Linked DNA regions of Homo sapiens. The protein of the gene in region 4 interacts with the protein of the main gene of each other region in a biochemical or structural test. Each region holds a gene or a part of one and is shown on either strand. Other genes may lie near its edges.

Region 1 (3,500 bases), on a different chromosome or scaffold from region 4:
GACAGGGTCTCACTGTGTCACCCAGGCTGGAGTGCAGTGGCACAATCTCGGCTCACTGCAGCCTCCGCCTCCTGGTCTCAAGCCATCCTCCTGCCTCAGCCCCGCAAGTAGCTGGGACCACAGGCACATGCCACCACACCAGCTAATTTTTGTATATTGTGTAGAGATGGCATTTCTCCATGTTGTCTAGGATGGTCTCGAACTCCTGAGCTCAAGCGATCTGCTTGCCTCAGCCTCCCAAAAGTGTTGGGATTACAGGCGTGAGCCACTGCCCCGGCGCAGGGGAGGCTCCTTTGTGAAGGGTAAATTGCTGTGTTGTAGGTCTCCACTTTTTTGCTTTTTTTTCTTTTAGCCAGGAAGTATTCCTTATGGTCAAAGCTCAGTGCATAAGAGAGCGGCTCTGGCTGAAGGAATGGAAGTCTTCTTCCTTGAGGAGCCATAGTCAGGAAAACCCAGCACTTGGTCCTGCCTCCTTCCACTCCTGAGTGATTTCCACTCTGTGCTCTGGGCAGCAGCTCTGGGTTTGAATTGGCCTCAGTTCGAGGCCATTGCGGAGCCTGAGAGAGGAACCAGCTGGCTCCCTGGGATCCTTAGCGTCAAGGGGTGGCTGCTTTGGCACCGATTCTCTGTTGGAGATGATGCCATCACCCACCTAGGAGCTTCCTTGATGGATTCCACACCCTGTGTGGGCTCCTGATCCAGAATGCCCATCCCCCACTGGCACTTGGGTGCTGAGGGAGTCTGCATCGGCAGCAGCCTACCACGTGGGGCCTGGAACTGGAAGGAAACTGGGGAGGACATGTGCCTGGGTGTTGGTGGGCAGGTGAGCAAACCCAACCCATCGGGGCAACTCTTGCTGAGTTAGATCCCCAGACATTTAAACCTACCACGCTCAGGCCTGGGGGTGTGGAGTGACTAGGAGACACACTGTGTTGTGGTTTTTTTGTTGGAGGTGTGGCTCTTATTCCGGTATTGATAGGGCATTGTCATTCAGGATTTTGTGTCCTATCTTCATATCTCATTAACTCTGTGGCAGCCCCAGGGAGATGAGTGGTGTCTTATGATCTTTGGTTCCAGGGCCCTGTCTGTAAGGAAGAAGTCGCAGGGCAGAAAGGTGCCTGAGTCAAGGCCAAGCCCAGTGCCCCTGATTCCTTGTCTGGGGTGGTTTTTCCTGTTCCCTGGTTAGGCCTTCCCACTACAATTTCAGGACATTTCCAGTCACTGTGGGACTCTGAAATTATGTAGCTTTCTTTTGTCCCGGATTTGATACATGGATCTGCGGGGAACAAGCGAACACCTTTGCCCCAGCTGGTGGTAGGGAGAAGACAGAATTGTTTACTTCTGAGTGGCTCAGTTGGGTCTCTTGTTTTTCCCAGTAACCAAGTCTAGCTTGGTCACTTGGAGCCCCATGCAGTCCTTTGTTTTTTCCCTTTGATTTGGGGAAACACCTGAGTTTTTTCCCTTGAGGATTCTCAACTCCCTGCCCCTGGGGTGAGCCTCAGTATCTTCATCTGTAAGATGGGGCTAATGGTGCTGCACTGCCTGCCTCTGTCACCGGGAGCATTGAAGTGCCTGGCCCAGGTGGGGCTGGGGTGTAGACAGGGGCCGGGGTGCACAGGATGTAATTCTAGTCCGTAGCTTGCCGCCTTGTTGGGGGAATGGGACGCTCATGAGAGTGACATTATGAGACAGGTCAACTGATAGAGATGCACAAACAGGCTTTTTCTTTTATAAAAAACTCGGTATGCTACACACTTTCCCCAGATACTCTCATTCACCTTTAGTGGCTCTCATTACCATCTAAATGTGGGACTCCTCAAGTCATTCCCACCAGGCCTCTATTGGGAGGCAGAAATGGCAGAACTTGGCTGGACCTCTCGCGTGCTCATTGCCTGATGTTTCCTTCTCGTTCCCACTCCCCACACCTCCTGTGCCTCCTCTTTACTTTCCTAGTGAACTGGCTGGCTTGCTTCATCAAACTTAAGAGAATGGAGCCAGCAGCGTCCGCTGGAGAAGCCGAGGAGAGCTTCACGAATGTGCTGGGACTTGGTGTTGAAGTGAAGCTCTGAATGCATGGAGCCATGGAGGGAGGACGTGTGGGCTGCGTAGGCTGGACCGCACAGGCTGAGCCATAGAGAGGAGCCATGTGTTTACCCAGCCTGAGCAGAGCAGGGGTTTGGCCTTGGCTCTGGGTGGAAGGGAATTGGGGATGCAGAGGTAATCTGGAGGACCTTAATGGCTAGGCTGAGTGGGAGGTTTGAATTTAGGCATTGTACACTGTCAGAAATTAGAGCTGGAAGTTTGTTTTTTTTCCCCAAGGGAATAACCCTGCCAGGCTTTTCTAGTGGGACTAATGCAGATGGGTGCTGATTGTCAGGTGTGGGTTATTTATTATTCAGCAGAGGTTGCCTGGCCTTTTGTTCTCTCTCCACTTCCTTCGGGTACCAGCCACCTTTTCTTCATCCCCTCTGCCCTGGAGGGTCAGCAGGGCAAGGGACATAAGTAAAAGCTCCAGCTGTTGTGGTTTTTCTTTTGGTTCTTTTGTTTGTTTATTTACTTATTTTTTAGAGACAGTGGAGTGCAGTGGTGCAATCATAGCTCACTGCAGCCTCAAACTCCTGGGCTCAAGCCATCCTCCTGCCTCAGCCTCCTTAGTAGCTAAGATTACAGGCGCATGCCACCCTGCATGGCTAATTTAGGTGGTTTTAATTGTGTTATTTAAGAGGAAGTGGCAGAGTCATTTGAAATTAATGGTTGAGAAGAGGTTTTTAAGTGAAGGGCAGATTTTATCTGTGTATCATTTCAGGGTACCTTTATTGCAAAATGACAGAAACTTAGCTCAGATCATCTTAGGTAGAAAAAGAGAAATGTATTGACTTAGAATATTCCACAACCTTTGGATGGATGGTGGAAACTGGCCTTTGGGACGTTTGACCTCTTGGATCGATGCTGTGGGCTTTTCCCACGGGTCTGAACATGACCTCAGGCCCCTCTGTTCAGGTTCACAGCCCCTGACCAGGGAAGAAAGGGAGCTCTATCCAATCAGCCCAGGCAGACAAACCTCATGGTAGGATTCTGATTGGTCTGGCCAGTGTTATGTGTCCACATGAGGCCCGGTCACTGTGGCCAGGGCTAGAGGACTAAGACTGGCTCAGCTTTGGCACTGTGCCCAGCAGTGGAACCCCAGGGTAAGGTGATGGGCTACTGTGATTGGCAGCCCATTCCAACACTATGTGGGTTTTTAGAGGGAGGCAGAGCAGTTGTCTAAAGGAAGACAAGCAGCAGCGATGTCACGCAGGTAAAAGAGCAGATGAATGTCCACTCCAAGCATTACCACCTTTGTGCGATAATACAGTTAGCACAGGCGGTCATTGCTGGAGTGGGATGGTGGGTCTAGGTAGTAATGATCAGACCTTACAAGGTTTTAGACCTTGAGCAAGGTTTTTAACCCTTCTGAGCTTATCTCCTCTACAAAGTAATTAAAACACTAACTACTTCAC
Region 2 (2,170 bases), on a different chromosome or scaffold from region 4:
TGTTACTGGTGGTATTTCAGGCATCAGGAGCCTTGGAAAATCATCGTAGGGGCCCATGCCTGTCTGTCCCTAGGCACCTGGGCAGTGCCACAGAGGCCCGCCCACGACTGGCCAGGGGACAGAACTCCAGTAGTGCATCCCTGTACAACCTGCACATAACGGTTATGTATGTTCACCTAAAGGAGAGAATATACTTTCTATTCCTATTGCACAAAAACCTTGTAAACTTTGAGAGGTGCTGAAAAAGCCAATTCTGCAAGCTCTCCTAGAGGACTGACATTGTAACATTAGAGTGAGAAGATTTCTCTGCCACATTCTTTTGTGTTAATCCAGGTGTGTCTTCACACCCAGTGAGTGGAAGTTGCTGGAGCTCGGTACAGGTCCACCCAGCTGAAGTGGGTTCTTTTTCCCACTACCACTGGGGCAAGGGAGTGAGCCTAGGTATGGTCACCTCAGCAGCCACAGTCTTAAAAGCAAGTCGCTAGATTTTTTGAAAGTCCCAAGAGAAGTGGTGGTCTTCCCTTCTGTCATCCCAGTATATATAGTTATACATGTAAATATCTAAATACCCCATGTAATGGGAAGGCTATGTACAGGGCAGCCTTCCCAAACGCTGTGAGGGCACAGAGCTGCTGTGGCTGCTCCACCAGGGTGTGCTGGTGGCTCAGCTTTGGGGTTGGACTCCCACGTTCACCTCCCCCTCCTGGTCCAGGCAGAGGCACCAGAACCCATCCTGCCTTTTCTCCAGTGTGAGCATTTCAGGGAGCCACCATCAGCCTTGGGTTCATGAGAGGAAGAAACCCCCAAAGACCAATGCCTGGAGCCCACTTCTCCAGCGACACCTTCCCTCGCCAGAGCAGGCTCCTAGGAGTGCATGGCAGGGGTGCCGGGTCCCTGTGCACGGGTTTGCTTTCTGAACATTGCCCATCAACACCGCCTTCAGGGAGTCCCAGAGTAACCTACTACCTCCCCCATCGCTCCTCTGCCCCCCTCACCCTGTGGGCACCAACACCTCCCGCACACAGATGAAAACCATCTACAGAGCCCTTCCCGGGTCCCTCGACCCAGTGGTGTAGCCGTTACCAATGTTTACAACCAGGGGCCGCCCCTCCTTAGATGTGTTTACTCGCATTCACAGGCCACCTGTTGGTTTGAGTTTCATGTGTCTCCTTCCCTGGCCTAGGTTGACTTGAGCACACAACTCGATCTTTCTTCCCCTCCATCAAGGCAGTGTGTGAGGACTGTGTGGGAATGACATTTCTTGTACATACTTAGCACAGCACCTAGAGTATGAACTTGTACTATTGTTCTGTAAAGAGGGTGAAATAGAGCTTATTGTAAAGTGTCGGGAGAAGTATAGTATTGTATTTGTAACAATATCGTTCTTTGTATACACAAAACTCAATGATCTATATATAAATATAAATAAATATATAAATAAAATATATCTACACGTGAGCCTGGAATGTGGACACCGCACACCCACTGAATGTACTTCCTTGACAGTCTGGTCACTGGTCCCTCCCTCCCTCCCTCCTCCGTCCCGTGGCCACAGTCATCCAGTTTGGGGTTGTGATGTATTTACTGTGCTATCTATCTTCCTTTATTTAACTGAACGCTAATGTCTGTATAAGAGTTGCTGCAACAATAAACAAGAACTTCACCTCTTGGCCTGGCCAAGTGTCTTCTTGTTGCAGGGAAGGCTTGGGATCATGTGATGAGTTTGTCTTTTCCCTAACAGACTGACTGACTAGCTCCTACCCACCCTATAGGCGCCCAGAGCCCAGGAGTTCTCTAAATGAGCTTTTATTCTGTGGAACTGACTTGGTTTTAGACAAGAAAGGCTCTGTTCTCCTGTCCCAGTTGATCCTCCAGTCCTGTGGGTCTCCTTTGAGCACACTGAACTGGAGAAAGAGAAATTCTCCGGATTTCTTACTTGACATCCTCCATGAGGGCAGGAAAACAGGAATTAATTCTCCCCCACCTCAGTCATCTCCCGTAAGGGAGGTACCTTTTTGTAAGGGACTAAGATCTAAGTGGACGGTGGAAAACAGCGCCCTGAGAGGCCCATCCAAAGGTTCTGTGAGAAGGTTCTGGAAGGTTTCCTCCTGGTGCTCTTTGGAAATTCACTTTTTGAAGGTTGCCAGGCATGCCCTCCCTGCTGCCGGGG
Region 3 (3,500 bases), on a different chromosome or scaffold from region 4:
GCTCACTGAAACCTCCACCTCCTGCGTTCAAGTGATTCTCTTGCCTCAGCCTCCCAAGTAGCTGGGATTATAGGCGTCTGCCACCACGCCCAGCAAATTTTTGTGTTTTTAGTACACAAGGTTTCACCATGTTGTTCAGGCTGGTCTCGAGCTCCTGACCTCAAGTGATCCGCCTACCTTGGCCTCCCAAAGTGGTGGGATTACTGGCGTGAGCCACAGCGCCCGGGCTGATCGCTTTTGATAATTTACTTTTTCCAGGAGTTTTGCTATTAAAAATGTGGTAAATACCCTTGCACACACATCTTTGTCCCCCTTTGCCAGTTTTTCTTTCAGAGTGACACTCAGAAGTAAAAATTGTACACTCTTAGGACAACTTAGCAGTGTCAGTATACATTGTGTAAATTTTTATTTCCACCTATTTTTTCATGACATTTGGAGTATAAACTATTATTAATCTCTAATAAATCAATAAATGTCAGTTGAGATTTGGCAGTAAAAAAATGTCATCTTATTGTTTTAGTTTGCATTCTTCGATTTAGAGAGGTTGATGTGTTAATGACCAGCAGGCCGCTCTTGTCAATCCTGTTGGGCTGTATGCTGCTATATGAGAGTACAGTGCTGTCATGACTGCCCTTTTGTTATTCACAGTTACCTGTCACTGGGTAGTTGTAAGAGTTGTACAGTTGAGATGCTGAGCACATCAGAAGTGTTTTTTTGATGCTCTATTCAGCACTTCTTTTGGTATTCCCATTGAATCCAGTGAACATTTGGATGGAATACTTAGACCTTTTATCAATGTCAATGGCATCCGTTATTGGTTTTCAATATGTTTTTTTGCTTAATGATCTTGAATTAGAAGATAAAGATGTCATTCAGCCACCATATCCAGGTTGATGTAAGAAAATTTTGATTGTATAATACTTGTATTTCTTTGATGGTTCATTACAAGTGTGTATCACTAGTAAAAATGATCACTGAAAATGTCTCATTTTGGTCATAGCAAAGGGTTTTGCTAGCCTTTTGAGTTTTTAATTACGTTACATTTTAGATTAATTTCATCAAATCACTGGAATTAAGAAAACATTATCCATAGAGAATGCCACTTTGAGTGGTTTCTTTTTTCTTTTCTTTTTCTTTTTCTTTTTTTTTTTTTTTGAGACAGAGTCTGGCTTTATTGCCTAGGCTGGAGTGCAGTGGCATGAGCTCAGCTCACTGCAACCTCCACCTCCCAGGTTCAAGCAATTCTCCTGCCTCAGCCTCCCGAGTAGCTGGAATTATGGGTGAGTGCCACCACGCCTAATTTTTGTATTTTTATTAGAGACGGGGTTTCTCTGTGTTGGCCAGGCTGGTCTCGAATTCCTGACCTCAGGTGATCCACCCACCTCGATCTCTCCAAGTGTGGGATTACAGGTGTGAGCCGTGGCGCCCAGCCTGGGTGGTTTCTTTCAAGCTGTAGATGACTAGTAAGAGTCTGAGATCATTTGTACAGCTTGGGAATTTTTCTTTTATTTTTTGTTGAGATGGGGTCTCCCTTTGTCACCCAGGCTGGAGTGCAGTGGCATGATCATGGCTCACTGTAACCTCAACCTCCTGGGCTCAAGCGATCCTCTCACCTCAGTCTCCAGTGTAGCTGGGATTACAGGTACAAGCCACCACACCAGCTAATTTTTTTGTTTTTGTAGAGATGAGGTTTCACTTTGTTGCACAGGCTGGTCTCAAACTCCTGGATTCAAGTGATCCTTCTGCCTTGGCCTCCTAAAGTACTGGGATCACAGTGAGCCACTGCTCCTGGCCTGGTTCAATAAATTTTGATAAGTATATACATCTGTGTAAACCATACCCCCTTCAAGACACAATGTGTCCATCACTCCAAAAAAGCTTCCTTGAACCCCTTCCCAGTGTAGGGGAGGGAAAATAGCCTCTACCCTTCTAAGTTTTCGGTTGGGGCCCCTGTAATAAAGGGTAGATTAACAAGAGAAAAACATGTAAACTTGTTTAATATAAGTTTTATGTGACATGGGAGCCTTCATAAGGAAAGGAAGACCCGAAGAAACAGTAAAACCTGAGTGTTTTTAAATTAGGTTTGATGAAGAAGGAAGAGTTGTGGAATGTGATAGGACAGAAAGGGATATGAGCCAAGAGTAGTAAACAGGGAAAAACTTAACAAGGCCTGTTTGTTCATATTCCTCTGGGTGTTCCTCTATTTTTTTTTTTTTTAATTTTTGAGACAGGGTCTCACTCTGTTCCCCAGGCTGGAGTGCAGTGGCATGATCATAGCTCACTGCAGCCTCAACCTCTTGGGCTCAAGTGATCCTCCTGCCTCAGCCTCCTGAGCAGCTGGGACTATGGGTATGTGCCACCATGGGTGGCTGATTTTTGAATTTTTTTTGTAGAGATGGAATCTCACTGTGTTGCCCAGGCTGGCCTCAAACTCTGGGGCAGAAGTGATCCTCCTGCCTCGGCCTCCCAAAGTGCTGGGATTATAGGCATGAGTCAATGCGCCCGGCCACTCTGTCTTTTGAGATTAAGATGCTGCTATCTTCTGGGTATAGAGAGGACACCTCTCACATGAGGATCCTATGATCTGCTTCAGGGGAAGTCTTTTTTGCACCTGCTGTTTCTCAGATTCCTTCAACTTAAAATATTCAACAATGCCAAGGTGTCATATTTTGGGAGTAGCATGTTCTGAAGCCTGTCATAGTCAGTTCCCTATGACCCTGCCCCAGGTAAATTAATCTATAATTGTAGATTAGTTTTGTCAGTACTTGAACTTCATATGAATGTAATCATACAGTATGGTTTGTGCCTTTTTTGGGTCAGGTTTCTTTTTTTCCACATATCATTTTTGAGATTTATCCTTGTTGTGTGTATCAGTAATTTTTCCTTTTTATTTCTGAATATTATATACCATTTGTTTATTCATCTGTTACTAGACACTTGGGTTTTTCTAGTTTTGGGGTTTTTGTAAATAAAAATGCTGTAAACTTTCATGTGCAGGCGTTTTTGTGAGCATATATTTTCATGAATACTGAGTAAGTATTTGTGAGTGGAAGTGCTGGGTCATATAGTAAGTGTATTTTTAACTTTATAAGAAACTACCAATTTTCCGAAGTGGTTGTGATATTTTACGTTTCTCTTAGCAATGTACAATAATAGTTCCAGGCACTTCACAGCCTCGTTGAAACTTAGTGTTGTCTGTTTTTAAATTTTAGTTACCTTAGTGGGTGTGTAGTGGCACCTCATTGTGGTTATAATTTTGAATTTCACTGAGTGGAGCCTTGATAAAGAATGTTCTTGAGGTTTTCCTTAATTTTTCTACAGGATTGTAGCCATATACAATTGAAATTCATCTTTTATATTGTTAAATTTTTTCTTTAGGTGTCTTTAAGAGTGATTGAAGAGAATAATTCAAAATGCCTGAAAATCCTGCTACAGGTATACTGGATATATTGTTCTATAATTAAATTAATTATTTAAAAATGGAATCTCAAATGGGACTT
Region 4 (3,500 bases):
AGAATTCACAAGCAATTCCAATAACATATAGAACACAATTTTTACACTTAGTGTTCCTCTTAGATGGGCAGATTTTATAAGGAAGTTAAAAAGAGAAACTGATATCCCTATATTTAAATGAGACATTTTAGAAAAAGATGTTTATCTCACATTATTCATTAGAAACCGCAAAAGAGATCTCAGACCTCTGTCTTCTTTGAAATATCTACTTTGATTAAAATTCTGGAAGATATGTAATGGGCAAGGGAAAAAGAAAACCAGAGAAAAGACTTTAAAATCCGTTAATATATAGGAAAATTAGAGACTTATCTAAATGATCTAAAGAACTTAGTTATTTGTTAAATCGATGTTCATTACATTAGAAAGTGCTATTTGTGCATTTCAACATAAAACCACATAATTAATAAGAAAACGAACATCAAATCTATGTCTGATTTGAAGGTAAAGTCCTCTGGATTCATATTCATTCTGAAATCCATTCCCCTCCAGGACCTTCTGCCATGCTGTACCCACACGTATGCATTTCTCATCACTGTGTATTCATTTGTTTGCATTATTAAACTGTAAGTTCCTAGAGGTCAGGAAAGACCATCATTTGTTAAATACATTCACCAGATGCTTGGTATTTGGGAAATATTTCATACAAATTAGGTTCACAGAAATGTATCCATCCAAGCTTATTCTAATTATAGAAACACTTGTGTGAGAATTTAAGTAAAAAATTAGAAAATCGTGATGGGAAAATATGAAACAGTGTGGCTGTCAGGCCAGGTCAATATTGCAACAAATGCTACATAATCTATGAAGGGACGATTTCTTGAGCTTTGCCAAAGAATAAGGAAAACAGACAATTCTGTTTTGGATAACATGTCACTAAGCAGACACATATCACTTGTGGACATTATTTTTTATGATGGATAAGGTTTTAATTATTTCCTTCTTGGGGGTAAGATTGGATATAGGGTACAGCAAGGGTAGATTACCCTGAATTCCCATTTGTTGGCATCCATGACAAGTCTTAAATCAGGTCCTTTTGTCTTCTTGCTTTTAAATCTCATCCATGTCTCCCTAGTAAGTGACTGCAGGCACTGGGGACAGATCAGTGACAAGATCAGTTTCTGAAATCCAAGAGACTTCCAGACCCTTAGGAGGAGGAGTTATAGGTAGGATTTTGTTCTAGGGAACTCTAAGGGGAAAATTATATTATTTGGTTTGTACTAAAATATTATATTGATATAGTTTGAAATAAGTAGAACTTCAACTGATACTCTAAGAACTTTTTATTATTTGAAAATTGGCCTTATAATAGACTTTGACTTAAAGAGTTCCCATAATCACAGAGTGGTTGTCAATACTCCAAAAGTAATTTTAAGAAAACATTCACATATTTAAAAATTAATAATGGGATCAGCAAATATTTACTACACATGTATTGTGTTATGGGCACACATCGCTAGGATGAAGAAATGCATAAGATCTGGTCCTCAGAATTTGCATAGTCTGTTAGTGTCAGAGAAAATAGGTTACAACTACAGGATGATGAGAGCAGCAACAGAAACAGATGCAGAGGAACACAGAGAAAGTGATGGTGGATTGTGTCGGCAGTAGCGGGAGGTAGGCAGGAGGAGGTTAGGGAAAGTTGTCCTGAGGAAATGAAATCTGAACAAGATGTTTGATAAGGTTTGGAGGTGGATGTGGAGGAAGGATATTTCAGGCAATGGGCCAGCATATGCACAGCCATAGAGGTGTGGAACAGCAGTTTGGCCTTGTGAGTGTTGATTTCTGGGGCAAGGAGAAGGAGCAGACCAGGAGCTGGAGAGCAGCCATGGACCAAGTCAGGGAGCTCGTATATCAAATCCCCTACAGCTATGCTGCCCAGTTGGGGAGCCACAACCCACATGTGGCTGTTCAAGTTAACAATAACCAAAGTTAAATAAAATAGGCTGGGCACAGTGGTTCACGCCTGTAATCCCAGCACTTTGGGAGGCCGAGGCAGGTGAATCACTTGAGTTCAGGAGTTCGAGACCAGCCTCGCCAACATGGTGAAAACCCATCTCTAGTAAAAATACAAAAATTAGCTGGGCATGGTGGTGTGTGTCTGTAATGCCAGCTACTCAGGAGGCTGAGGCAGGAGAATCGCTTGAACCTAGGAGGTAGAGGTTGCGGTGATCTGGTATCATGCCGTTGCACTCCAGCCTGGGTGACAGAGCGAGACTCTGTCTCAAAAAACAAACAAACAAAAATTATTTCCGTAGTTGTATTGGCCACATTTCAAATGTTCAGTAGCCGTATGTGCCTACTGGCTATTGTATGGGACAGTGCAGATTACAGTGAACATTCCCACCATCGGAGAAAATTCTGTTGGACAGCGCCACGCAGAGCCTATAGCCTCTAAAAGAACCAAGCACATAACTTTGTTTCAGATGAGTATAATTCCATGATAACTTGGGTTTAAATTTAAGTATATCATTCTACACTTTAAGAAACTGCTACTTGAATATATTGGGCAGAAGGCTTTAGTTCATGGTCAATTATAGTAAATTTATATTTTAATTTTCTATCATCAACTCACAGAATTCTCACAAGCTTCTCCCTTCTTCCCTCCTGCCCTCTCCATCTCCATTAAACATCACTTGCAAAGTTGGTGGGGTGGGAAAGAGATTAATGATAATTATAGCCAATCTTGATGACAGGTCTCTCCTAAAAGTTTTATATGTATTAGCTAATTTATTGTTCATAATAACCCTAGGAAGTATAAGTATTATTTTAAATTCTCATCCTAAATTTGAGGGAACTGAGGCACAGAAAGGTCAGATAACTTGTGAATTCTCACAGTTAGTTAGGAAACAAAGGTGTCAGAATTTGAATTCTGGCTCTGGATGTGGGAACTCACCCACCACACTCTACCATCATCTTAGAATCTATCGGGGCAGGAGTGAGGTGGAGAAGAAACTGGGATATTGATTCCACAAATTGAGAATAAAAAGGAAATAATACTCTTGGAATCTCAATTCTAAATTGAAGTAATGAGAGTGGCTCACACACCCTGTTTTGAAGCTCACTGACCAAAGTGCATACACATTTTGTCATATAACTTTTGCTTATTTACTTCGCTTGCTGTGGTAGATGCTGAAATTATAGACATGAAGGACACATTCATTCATTCAACAAGTATTTATTGAGGGCCTTTGGGCTGTGCATCAGGTACAGTGTTGGACCAAATGGAGAAGCTTACATTCCAGAGGGGAGAGACGGACAATAAATAAATACTCCACGGCTGGGCACGGTGGCGCACGCCTGTAATCCCAGAATTTTGGGAGGCTGAGGAGGGCGGATTACGAGGTCAAGAGATTGAGACCATCCTGGCCAACATGGTTGAAACCCTGTGTCTACAGAAAATACAAAAATTAGCTGGGTGTGGTGGCGCATGCCTGTAATCCCAGCTACTCGAGAGGCTGAGGCAGGAGAATGGCTTGAATCCAGGAAGCGGAGGTTGCAGT
Region 5 (3,500 bases), on a different chromosome or scaffold from region 4:
TGCTTTTTGTTTTACCCTCACTCCCCTGAAGAGTTTCTCAGGCAAAGGGAGGGGTCCATTGGTACTTCTGCTTATCATTGAAGGACATTCAGGCCAGGCACGGTGGCTCACACCTGTAATCCCAACACTTTGGGAGGCCAAGGTGGGCGGATCACTTCAGGCCAGGAGTTCGAGACCAGCCTGGCCAACATAGCAAAACCTCATCTCTACTAAAAATACAAAAAATTCAGGCACGGTGGTGCACACCTGTAGTCTCAGCTACTTGGGATGCTAAGGTGGGAGGATTGCTTGAGCCCAGGAGGTAGAGGTTGCAGTGAGCCAAGATCATACCACTATACTCCAGCCTGGGCAAGAGAGTGAGACCCTGTCTCAAAAAAAAAAAAAAGAAAAAAAGAGAAAAAAAAGAGAAATTCACAACAGTATGGCTTATAACCAAGGTCCTTGCTTCAAGATAATATGCCTTAAAGATAAAGCTTGACAACCAAATTAAAACAGATGATTAAAGAAAAGCCAGGTGTGGTGACTCACATCTGTACTCTTAGCACTTTGGGAGGCCAAGGTGGTATGATTGCTTGAGCCCGGGAGTTCAAGACCAGCCTGGGCAACATAGAGAGACCTCATCTCTTAAAAAAATAATAATAAAAATAAATAAAAAATTTTAAGAGTGACATGGACCAATGGAAAATAAATAAATTAATTAATTAAAAAGATGGTAAAAAAACGTAGCCAATTTTACTTTTTGGTAGGGAAGGAACCATATGTCTACCGCTGAAAACTTATTTATAAAACCATTGGATAAAACACTACAAAGATGGTGGGTTTTCTGGTACCCACTATATGCTTTTCCCTGTCACTGCCATGAACCCTTCATTTATCAACTTGGTGACCCTCTTAACCAAATCTTTAGTGTTCATAGGAGAACTCCAGGAAAAAGGAAATGGAATTCAGAATTCAGTCAAGGCAGCACCTATCCCTGCATCTGTTTCTTATTTCCAAGTGTTTTATAATTTGGATGATGATGTAAAGGGAAGCCTGGGTAGATATAATTCCTCCTATAGCATTGAGAATTTCTGAGCATATTCACAAAACAGGTTCCATGTGCCTTTAAATTAAATCAATTTGCTACTTCTTAAATAGGTGCACTCTTCCTCACTCAGTGGCTAAGGATTTAGAAGCTTAAGAACATTTAGAGGAGTTCCTAAAAAAGTAGAGAAGGCAGAACGTGAAAGATACCTGAGAAAACAACCAGTTGCAAGCAGAATCTGGGTGTAATGGATTAGAAAACAGGTTAATAAGAGATAATATTGGTCATCAGTTGCTTCTGCCTTGGCTCTTCTCTTTCTAAAGCATGGGAGCATTTGTGCAGTAGATAAAAACAAGTAAATATAGGGACACACTTCAATATGATTACAATTCTTTTGGAAGGTATGTGAGAAGTTATTTCCAGTGTTCACTTTTAAGGAAACATCCATAAATAATTCCTAATAAAAAAGACCCTTATGTTCAGGCAATTGGCCTAGCCCTAAAAACCATGCCTTCTTATTGAGCATGTCCTTTCAGGACAGCTCATCAGCAAATGAATGAAAAACATAGAGGTGGAATAGAGGGTATAATGGTATTTCATGCAGTCTTGCCTTTCAGATTGAAGTGTCAGTTTTATGAGTTGTAATGAGGCAGTTTAACTGAAATACGATGATGCCATAATTATTGCAAGTTAGCCACTAAAAGTTGATATTAAGAAGAGCTACCCTGAAAACCATCACTAAAATGAAGACCATCCAGCCTCAAAAGGAAACACTTAGCCAATAGAAAATTATAAGCACTAGGATATAATTTCTTTTTGCTTTTTTACATCTGTTCCATATAGATTCACCTTCATCTCTCTCTAGTATTAGAAATGAGCAGATGAAGGGCAAAACCCCATCTTTGGAGGGAGTTGGGTGCCTTCTGGGATCTGGAAAGCATTTTTCAAGTAATGGCATTGGACGTATGTTGGTATTGCACCTATGTTGACATTGCCCACATCTGCTCTTACTACATTTTGATGACTGATTATCTAAGTAAACATTTCCAGAAAGATCCCCCTTCTTCCTCACCAAGTAATATCCAAGTTCCCTATAAGATCATAGGTTTTATCTCATGTCTTCATTTTCCTGATACGATACACAAATAGCAAGGTAGAGGCAGTACAGAAACAGAAATTACCTGACTTGCCCTCACGGGTCCCTTTAGGTCAGCAAGGTTAAATGCCTCCCCATTAGACCTATTTTCTTTCCAAAGATCCTGTGACACTGATGCATCAGCTCAGGACAAAGAGAGGACTCCTTCTGCTAGGTATTGCTGGGGGTTACAGTTTTGGGTGGTCTAGAGTCTACAAACCCAGGTGATGTATCAACCTGGGCGTTTCAGTTGCAAACACACATTAGTCACTAGAGTTAACATTTTTCTTTCCCTTCCAGTTACAGGTGCAGAATGGACCTATAGGACATCGAGGTGAAGGGGACCCAAGTGGTATTCCCATATTTATGGTGCTGGTGCCAGTGTTTGCCCTCACCATGGTAGCAGCCTGGGCTTTCATGAGATACCGGCAACAACTTTGAAAAACTTGCTCTCTTTCAATACTCCCAATGAAGATACATTTCACTCACCCTCCACCCCTGCTATTCTGCCATGTCTTTCCCTCTCTCTGCATAGCCAGATTTGAAGTGACTGATACCCACCCCAAACCTTGCTGTTCACAGTCTCCAATTCTTCATATTCTAATGGGAAAGTAAAGGTATTGTTTGAAGGAAAACTGAAGAAAAGACTTGGCTTAGAACAAATGAGGAGTTATATATTTTACTAGGACTTTTGATAGAAATTCAGCTACAACCCAAAGAGAGAAAGATTGAGTCTTCCTGTCACCATAGGCAATACCTTTTTTCTTAGCTGGCATGCCATAAAGGCCAGCTATGTGATATTAGAGGAAGAAAGGATTTTTCTTTTTAATGATCTTCCTTGGGAAATTATTGTGGCCTTTATTTAATTTCTAACTACGTACCTGGGTGCCTATATCGACAAAGAGTGAGAAGAGCATTTTTACTTTTTTAAAAAAGCAAATACATATATACACATACGTATGCAAATATTATAGTATAATAGTGATCCCTATGGAGAATTAAAGGTGAGAAAGCTACTTTGTGGTGTCTAGGTTTCTGATAAAAGGGATGATCTTAACTGAAGAATTTAAAGAGATACTTAAACAGAGCAAATGTAGTAGGAACAAGGGAGTGAGCCTTATAAGAGGACGTTCAGTCTCATTTATTAAAATAATAACTGAGACTGGGAGAGGTGGCTCATGCCTGTAAATCCCAGCACTTTGGTAGCCTGAAGTGGGAGATTGCTTGAGTCCAGGAGACCAGCCTGGGCAACATAGCAAAACCTCATCTCTATTTAAAAAAAAAATAGAAAAAAATGTAATAACTGAAGCAACTAATTAAAAATCTTAGAAGAACAATATT
Region 6 (3,500 bases), on a different chromosome or scaffold from region 4:
TAACTCCCCTAATTCATTTTATTTTATTTATTTATTATTTATTTTTTAGACAGAGTCTCGCTCTGTCACCCAGGCTGGAGTGCAGTGGCGCAATCTCGGCTCACTGCAACCTCTGCCTCCCAGGTTGAAGCAATTCTCCTGCCTCAGCCTCCCGAGTAGCTGAAATTACAGGTGCCCGCTACCATGCCCGGCCAATTTTTGTATTTTTAGCAGAGACGGGGTTTTGCCATGTTGGCCAGGCTGGTCTCGAACTCCTGACCTCAAGTGATCTGCCTGCCTCAGCCTCCCAAATTGTTAGGATTACAGACGTGAGCCACCGCGCCCGGCCTCCTAAATTCATTTTAACATCTTCCTTCCTTCTCTCACCAAACTAATTTGTGCTTAATTCAAGTTCTGTTCTTTTCCTTACTATATTTGTTCTAATCTTTGAAACCCATAATGACATCCAGTGTTTCTCATTGTCACTGAGAATGAGGTTGCTTCATGATGCTCTTCTTAGTAGGAGTGGCTGACAGAATGTCTTCCTTGCTTTAGGAAATGCAGGACTCAGGCAGTGAGAATGCATTCAGTTTTGATTCTGTCACACATAGCCCGGAATGCACCTCTCGGACAGCACCTCCTTGTCTGCTGCCTCTGCCATTCTCCTTACTGCTTTGAGTGTGTAAATTGAGGGGAAAAAAGGGCTTTTTGTTAGAGTTTGGGTATTTTCATTTTCAAATCATCTGACGCTGATTTTTAAGAACTCTGTTTCAAGAGCTGTAAGCAGTAGGTGAGTATTTCACTCTTCATGGTTTTACTACATCCTATCTCATTTGGGCTTGCATATGGTAAGATAGTGTGTTTTACTTGCAGCTTCCAACTGAGCCAAAGGCCACAGTATTGCAGGTAGAAGTCAAAGTCTTGGAACTAGATTTTGGGCTGTGTGTGCAAAGGTGTGAAAACACCTTATTAACAGAGAATATGAAGAAGACAGCCTAGATTGCAGGTAGAAAAATACAAACTTCTCACTGAAATCACCCATTTGTGGTGACTCCATATGAAGACAGGTTCCACTGGATGTGAAAAGTAGAAACTTTTTTTTTGGCTTTTTTTTTTTGAGACAGAGTCTTGCTCTGTCGCTTAGGCTGGGGTGCAGTGTCGTAATCTTGGCTCACTGTAACCTCCACCTCTCAAGTTCAAGTGATTCTCCTGCCTCAGCCTCCCGAGTAGCTGGGACTGCAGGCATGCAACATCACACCCAGCTAATTTTTGTAGTTTTAGTAGAGATGGGGTTTCACCATATTGGCCAGGCTGCTCTTGAACTCCTGACCTCAGGTGATCCACCCGCCTCAGCCTCCCAAAGTGCTGGGATTACAGGCGTGAGCCTCTGCGCCCGACCTCCTAAGGCTCTTTTGATGTGTCACTCCTCTCAGATTTCCAGGGGCCACTAGATCTTGTCTATTCAAGGGCTTCCAAAATTTGCTTCAGACCTTTATTTCCAATACCATTTCCTAGGACTTCTAGCATCAGCCAAGCTGGTGTCCTTTTCCATAAGCCTGGATTGTATAGCTCCCTCCCCACCTTCTCCCACCTTCCCTTTTATTTCTTTACTCTGCATCATTTATAGCATGTCACAACAGCATGTCTTGTCAGAAGACCTGGGTTTTGTCCCAGGTTGGTTAGATGTATGACCTAGGTCAAACTATTTTTTCCTCCCTGAACCTCTGTTTCCCCATATGTAAGAGAAAGAGACCGCACTAGGTGACTTCTATGGTCCCATTGGTCTTTTCAACCCTACCATTCTGTGCTTTTTCTTTGGCTGCCCGAGGACATAGGGCCCTTTCTTTAGTGCTTCAGGAGTGTTTACCAGTCATTGTTTGGGATTGTAGTTAACATTTTTTGTCCTCTCTTTAGCTACTTTTTGAAGATATGTTTGTGAACTGAGAAAGCGCCCTGCTAGAGCTAGTTTCCTAGGATGTGGGTGAGGGAGAGGGCTATTGAGCGAGTTCTACTTTGGACTTTTATCTTGCATCCAGAAGCCAAGAGGAGATGGGGTTTGTAAAATATTTTCTCTTATGCTTCTTATTGGGAGAATGAGATGTTTCTTTGAAAGCGGGTGCATATTTACCACTTTGGCTCAGAAAGAAGGATGTGGTCTCCTGGAGACATCCTTCTAGTATACTGTGAGGCTGCTATGTCTGTGCTGTTTGGGTTGGCCTTCCATCTTTTCAAGGTGCCAGTGTCTTGGCATTTAGGGTTGGATGATCACTTCATCTTTCACTGTGCCTTTCAGGGCCCTGTTTGATTATGATCGGACTCGGGACAGCTGCCTGCCAAGCCAGGGGCTCAGCTTCTCTTATGGTGACATTCTGCATGTCATTAATGCCTCTGATGATGAGTGGTGGCAGGCAAGGCTGGTGACCCCACACGGAGAAAGTGAGCAGATCGGTGTGATCCCCAGTAAGAAGAGGTGAGTCGTCATGATCATGAGCAAGGCCTTTCCTGCCCTCTTGCTGGTATTTCTTTCTTGTTTTCCTATTAGAAGTTGCTTGAGAGCAACGTTTGTGCCTTGATTCCTTTTTGGTAGAGTCGGTACTCAACATGGTTTTTACTCAGTGAGCCAAAAAAATGGCTGCTGTGCCTGCTGCAACCCACTGCTGAGACCATTTACTGGCAGTAACAGGACTTCTTTCTGATTCCAAAACAGGGTGGAAAAGAAAGAAAGAGCTCGATTGAAAACTGTGAAGTTCCATGCCAGGACGGGGATGATTGAGTCTAACAGGGTAAGTGGGGATCCCCAAGGAAATCAGCCAGTAGGTAAAGAGGGTTGAGAAGCCTGGAGTTTAGTCTGATGTGTAGGAGAACTGGGGAACACAAAAGAAAATCTCTTTTTCAGGGGGCTGGCTCTGTCCTATCAGAACATTGACTGCTTTTCAGAAAGCAGAGAGGGAGCTCTTAAAGTTCACAGCCAGTCTGTGCTCCTTTCCCCTGGGTACCGGCTCTTGAAGATGTGTTAGAGTTGGACTGTCTGGAAGGCTGACTTGCTTGGGGAAAATGAAACCACTCGTGGGTGTCTCCCTGGCTATAGATCCTGTCAGAGCATCCGGCCAAGAAGCCCAGCTCCAGAGCTCCCACCTCCCTTCAGACCACCTGAGGCAGGCGGGTTCTCCATTCACCCCTTTTTTTCTATGAGCTTCACAGGCCAAAGAACTTCTGGAGCAGTAGAGGGAAGAGAGACGTGGAGTAGATGTGTATATCAGTGGTACCTTAGGGCATGTGTCCAGGAGGCTACAGTGACCTTTGTTCTTTAGGAAGTACCAGTGAGTGTTATGAGTGTCTGGATTATGTAGAAACTTCTAACATCCCTACAACATTTTCTTGTAAACATAATTTTCCTCTTACATCAACTTTCATTTAATCTCATAGACTCCATTTGTGAGAGATGGTCTTTTATTTAGCTCACCGTTGTCTCCATTTTAGTTTTTCTTGCATGCTTTAAAATCCATTGTTCTGTTTTTTTT
Region 7 (2,371 bases), on a different chromosome or scaffold from region 4:
AAGCCTATTATTTATTTTATAGATGATCAGAATTCGTTTTAAGTTTTAGCTAGACATCATCTTGCCAACAAATTACATTTTAAGCAATTAACTAGTATATGCCTCAGTTAACTGAAGTTAATGTAATATGAAAGCAACAATGAAAAATAAAAATATAATTCACAGTTCAGTAGATATTTATATAAGTAGAATTGACTGAATTTTACAATTATATGTATTACTTCTAAGTCTTACAGACAGCTTGATGGTGGCTCATGCCTGTAATTCAAGCACTTTGGGAGGCCAAGGCAGGAGGATCGCTTGAGGCCAGGAGTTACCAACCTGGGCAACATAGTGAACCCTGTCTCTTCAAAAAAATTTTTAAAATATAGCTGGACATGGTGGCACATGCTTGTAGCTCCAGCTACTCAGGAGGCTGAGGTGGAAGGATTGCTTGAGCCTAGGAGGTCAAGGCAGCAGTGAGCCGTAATCATGCCACTGCAATCCAGCCTGGGCAATAGAGTGAGACCCTGTCTCAGAAAAAAAAAAGAAAAAAAAAAAAGGAAAGGAAAACTTGATAGGAAACTTAATACAATTTTTACATAAGCCCAATATAGTATTTTTAAATCTGTACAATATTTGATACCTGCCATAAGAGGGAAGAATTCCCCTGTTAGGAATTACTGATTTGATTAATATAAGGCATTATTTTTGCCTCAGATTACTAATGTTAATTACTTGGGCATTCCTTTGTTTTTCACTCAATAAACTTATACAACTAACTTTTTTTTTTTTTTTAATTTTTTTAATCGAGACAGAGTTTCACTCTGTCACCCAGGCTAGAGTGCGGTGGTACGATCTCAGCTCACTGCAACCTCCACTTCCTGGCTTCAAGTGATTCTCCTTCCTCAGTCTCCCAAATAGCTGGGATTACAGGCATGTGCCACCATGCCCGGCGAATTTTTGTATTTTTAATAGAGACGGGGTTTCACCACATTGTCCAGGCTGGTCTCGAACCCCTAACCTCAGGTTATCCACCCACCTTGGCCTCTCAAAGTGCTGGGATTACAGGTATGAGCCACTGCACCTGACCAAAACCAACTTTTTAAACCAGAAAGTGTCTGCTTTTTTTTTCTCCTTTCTTTCAGGATTTAATAAGAAGGCAGTAACTGACACACATGAAAATGGAGACCTGGGCACTGCAAGTGAAACTCCGCTAGATGACGGTGCTTCAAAATTAGATGATCTGCACACTCTGTATCATAAAAAATCTTATTAAATTGACCATATCTCCAGACAAGATTGTTAATCAGACTATTCTGAATTTGGGGCACTGGGGAAGATGGTGACAAAGACTACAAAATCAGGGGAGGCTGTTTGTTGCCTAAATGAAAGGCGGGTACCTCAGGGCTTCATGTGAACAATTCTCAATGCATAAAACACCCTGTTTTCTGTGGTAGACCATAATTAGCTATTGCATGTAAAGCAATTTTGATTTTCTTGAACTTGTAAGCACCAAAGCATGTGTTTCCCAAAGGGGTATTACTGGGCTCTTAAGTACCAAATGAAACCCTACTGTTTTACTTGGTTCCTTTTCCCTTTAGTAGGAGGACAGTGCTAACTGGAATTTTATAAGGAGTACCCTTTAAAATACAGAGAGTAAGTGAATTCATATTTTATATTCTAGAATGTTAACTGTGGTATTTCAGAAGACAGAGCTTGACTCAATGAATTGTAGAAATATAGGCTTGACTTAATTTTTGTAACTGAAAGGCTTTAGACTTAAAAAAATTTATTGTGCATCCTAAAATCTAAACCAATTATTAATGATCATTTATTGTAATGAGTTTGCATTTCAGCTTTATTCAATGCAGTACAAAATAGTTTTCTTTAAGCAGTCTTTTATCAATCAATGCTGCACTAGAAATAGATTCTCAAAAGTTACTAAACATTTTACTTTTTTTGTTTTTTAAAAGAAATGCAGATGAGTGTAAAACATCTGTTCTCAATTATGTTGATCTGTGTGCGCAGTACTGGAGCATTTACCCATTCATGTTGAGCCTCAAATGCTTGTTTTCTGGGGTCCACAAAAGACAGTTTTATACATTTTGAGTTGTTCATAAAGTTTGTCTTGTGATAGTCCTGGCACTTAAAGACAAATTTTTCTGGTAGTAAAAGTTCAGATTTATTACTATGTCATGAAACACAGTACATTCAAATCAAACGGCAGTTTTCTTTCTAAGTAAATGATTTCCAGTCATCTAAAAGGTGGGCAAGATGAGATAAAGACATTTTGATACAGTAATTGTTTTGGTTGGGTTTTCATGTCAGTTTATGTTTGACTAAAGCTCTCTTCATATGCAGGTTTATAAATTTGTTAGGTCTGTTGTCC

Evidence for each region.
Region 1: the proteins of TMEM178B (region 4) and DLG5 interact in a test that uses a peptide from one of them, tested with the Homo sapiens proteins (one large-scale study listed by IntAct).
Region 2: the proteins of TMEM178B (region 4) and APBA1 interact in a test that uses a peptide from one of them, tested with the Homo sapiens proteins (one large-scale study listed by IntAct).
Region 3: the proteins of TMEM178B (region 4) and PATJ interact in a test that uses a peptide from one of them, tested with the Homo sapiens proteins (one large-scale study listed by IntAct).
Region 5: the proteins of TMEM178B (region 4) and SYNJ2BP interact in a test that uses a peptide from one of them, tested with the Homo sapiens proteins (one large-scale study listed by IntAct).
Region 6: the proteins of TMEM178B (region 4) and DLG3 interact in a test that uses a peptide from one of them, tested with the Homo sapiens proteins (one large-scale study listed by IntAct).
Region 7: the proteins of TMEM178B (region 4) and GOPC interact in a test that uses a peptide from one of them, tested with the Homo sapiens proteins (one large-scale study listed by IntAct).

Annotation. Positions count from the first base shown.
Region 1 is NC_000010.11:77,920,256-77,923,755, reverse strand, and holds part of DLG5 (disks large homolog 5), read left to right. Parts: intron 1-3,500. UniProt on the Homo sapiens protein: Acts as a regulator of the Hippo signaling pathway.
Region 2 is NC_000009.12:69,427,032-69,429,201, reverse strand, and holds the end of APBA1 (amyloid-beta A4 precursor protein-binding family A member 1), read left to right. Parts: 3' UTR 1-1,670; downstream 1,671-2,170. UniProt on the Homo sapiens protein: Putative function in synaptic vesicle exocytosis by binding to Munc18-1, an essential component of the synaptic vesicle exocytotic machinery. May modulate processing of the amyloid-beta precursor protein (APP) and hence formation of APP-beta.
Region 3 is NC_000001.11:61,759,480-61,762,979, forward strand, and holds part of PATJ (inaD-like protein), read left to right. Parts: intron 1-3,378; 5' UTR 3,379-3,413; coding exon 3,414-3,435; intron 3,436-3,500.
Region 4 is NC_000007.14:141,077,064-141,080,563, forward strand, and holds part of TMEM178B (transmembrane protein 178B precursor), read left to right. Parts: intron 1-3,500.
Region 5 is NC_000014.9:70,372,091-70,375,590, reverse strand, and holds part of SYNJ2BP (synaptojanin-2-binding protein), read left to right. Parts: intron 1-2,459; coding exon 2,460-2,600; 3' UTR 2,601-3,500. Other genes in the region: SYNJ2BP-COX16 protein, read left to right, coding at 2,460-2,558. UniProt on the Homo sapiens protein: Regulates endocytosis of activin type 2 receptor kinases through the Ral/RALBP1-dependent pathway and may be involved in suppression of activin-induced signal transduction.
Region 6 is NC_000023.11:70,489,835-70,493,334, forward strand, and holds part of DLG3 (disks large homolog 3), read left to right. Parts: intron 1-2,272; coding exon 2,273-2,449; intron 2,450-2,686; coding exon 2,687-2,762; intron 2,763-3,500. UniProt on the Homo sapiens protein: Required for learning most likely through its role in synaptic plasticity following NMDA receptor signaling.
Region 7 is NC_000006.12:117,562,141-117,564,511, reverse strand, and holds part of GOPC (Golgi-associated PDZ and coiled-coil motif-containing protein), read left to right. Parts: intron 1-1,127; coding exon 1,128-1,258; 3' UTR 1,259-2,371.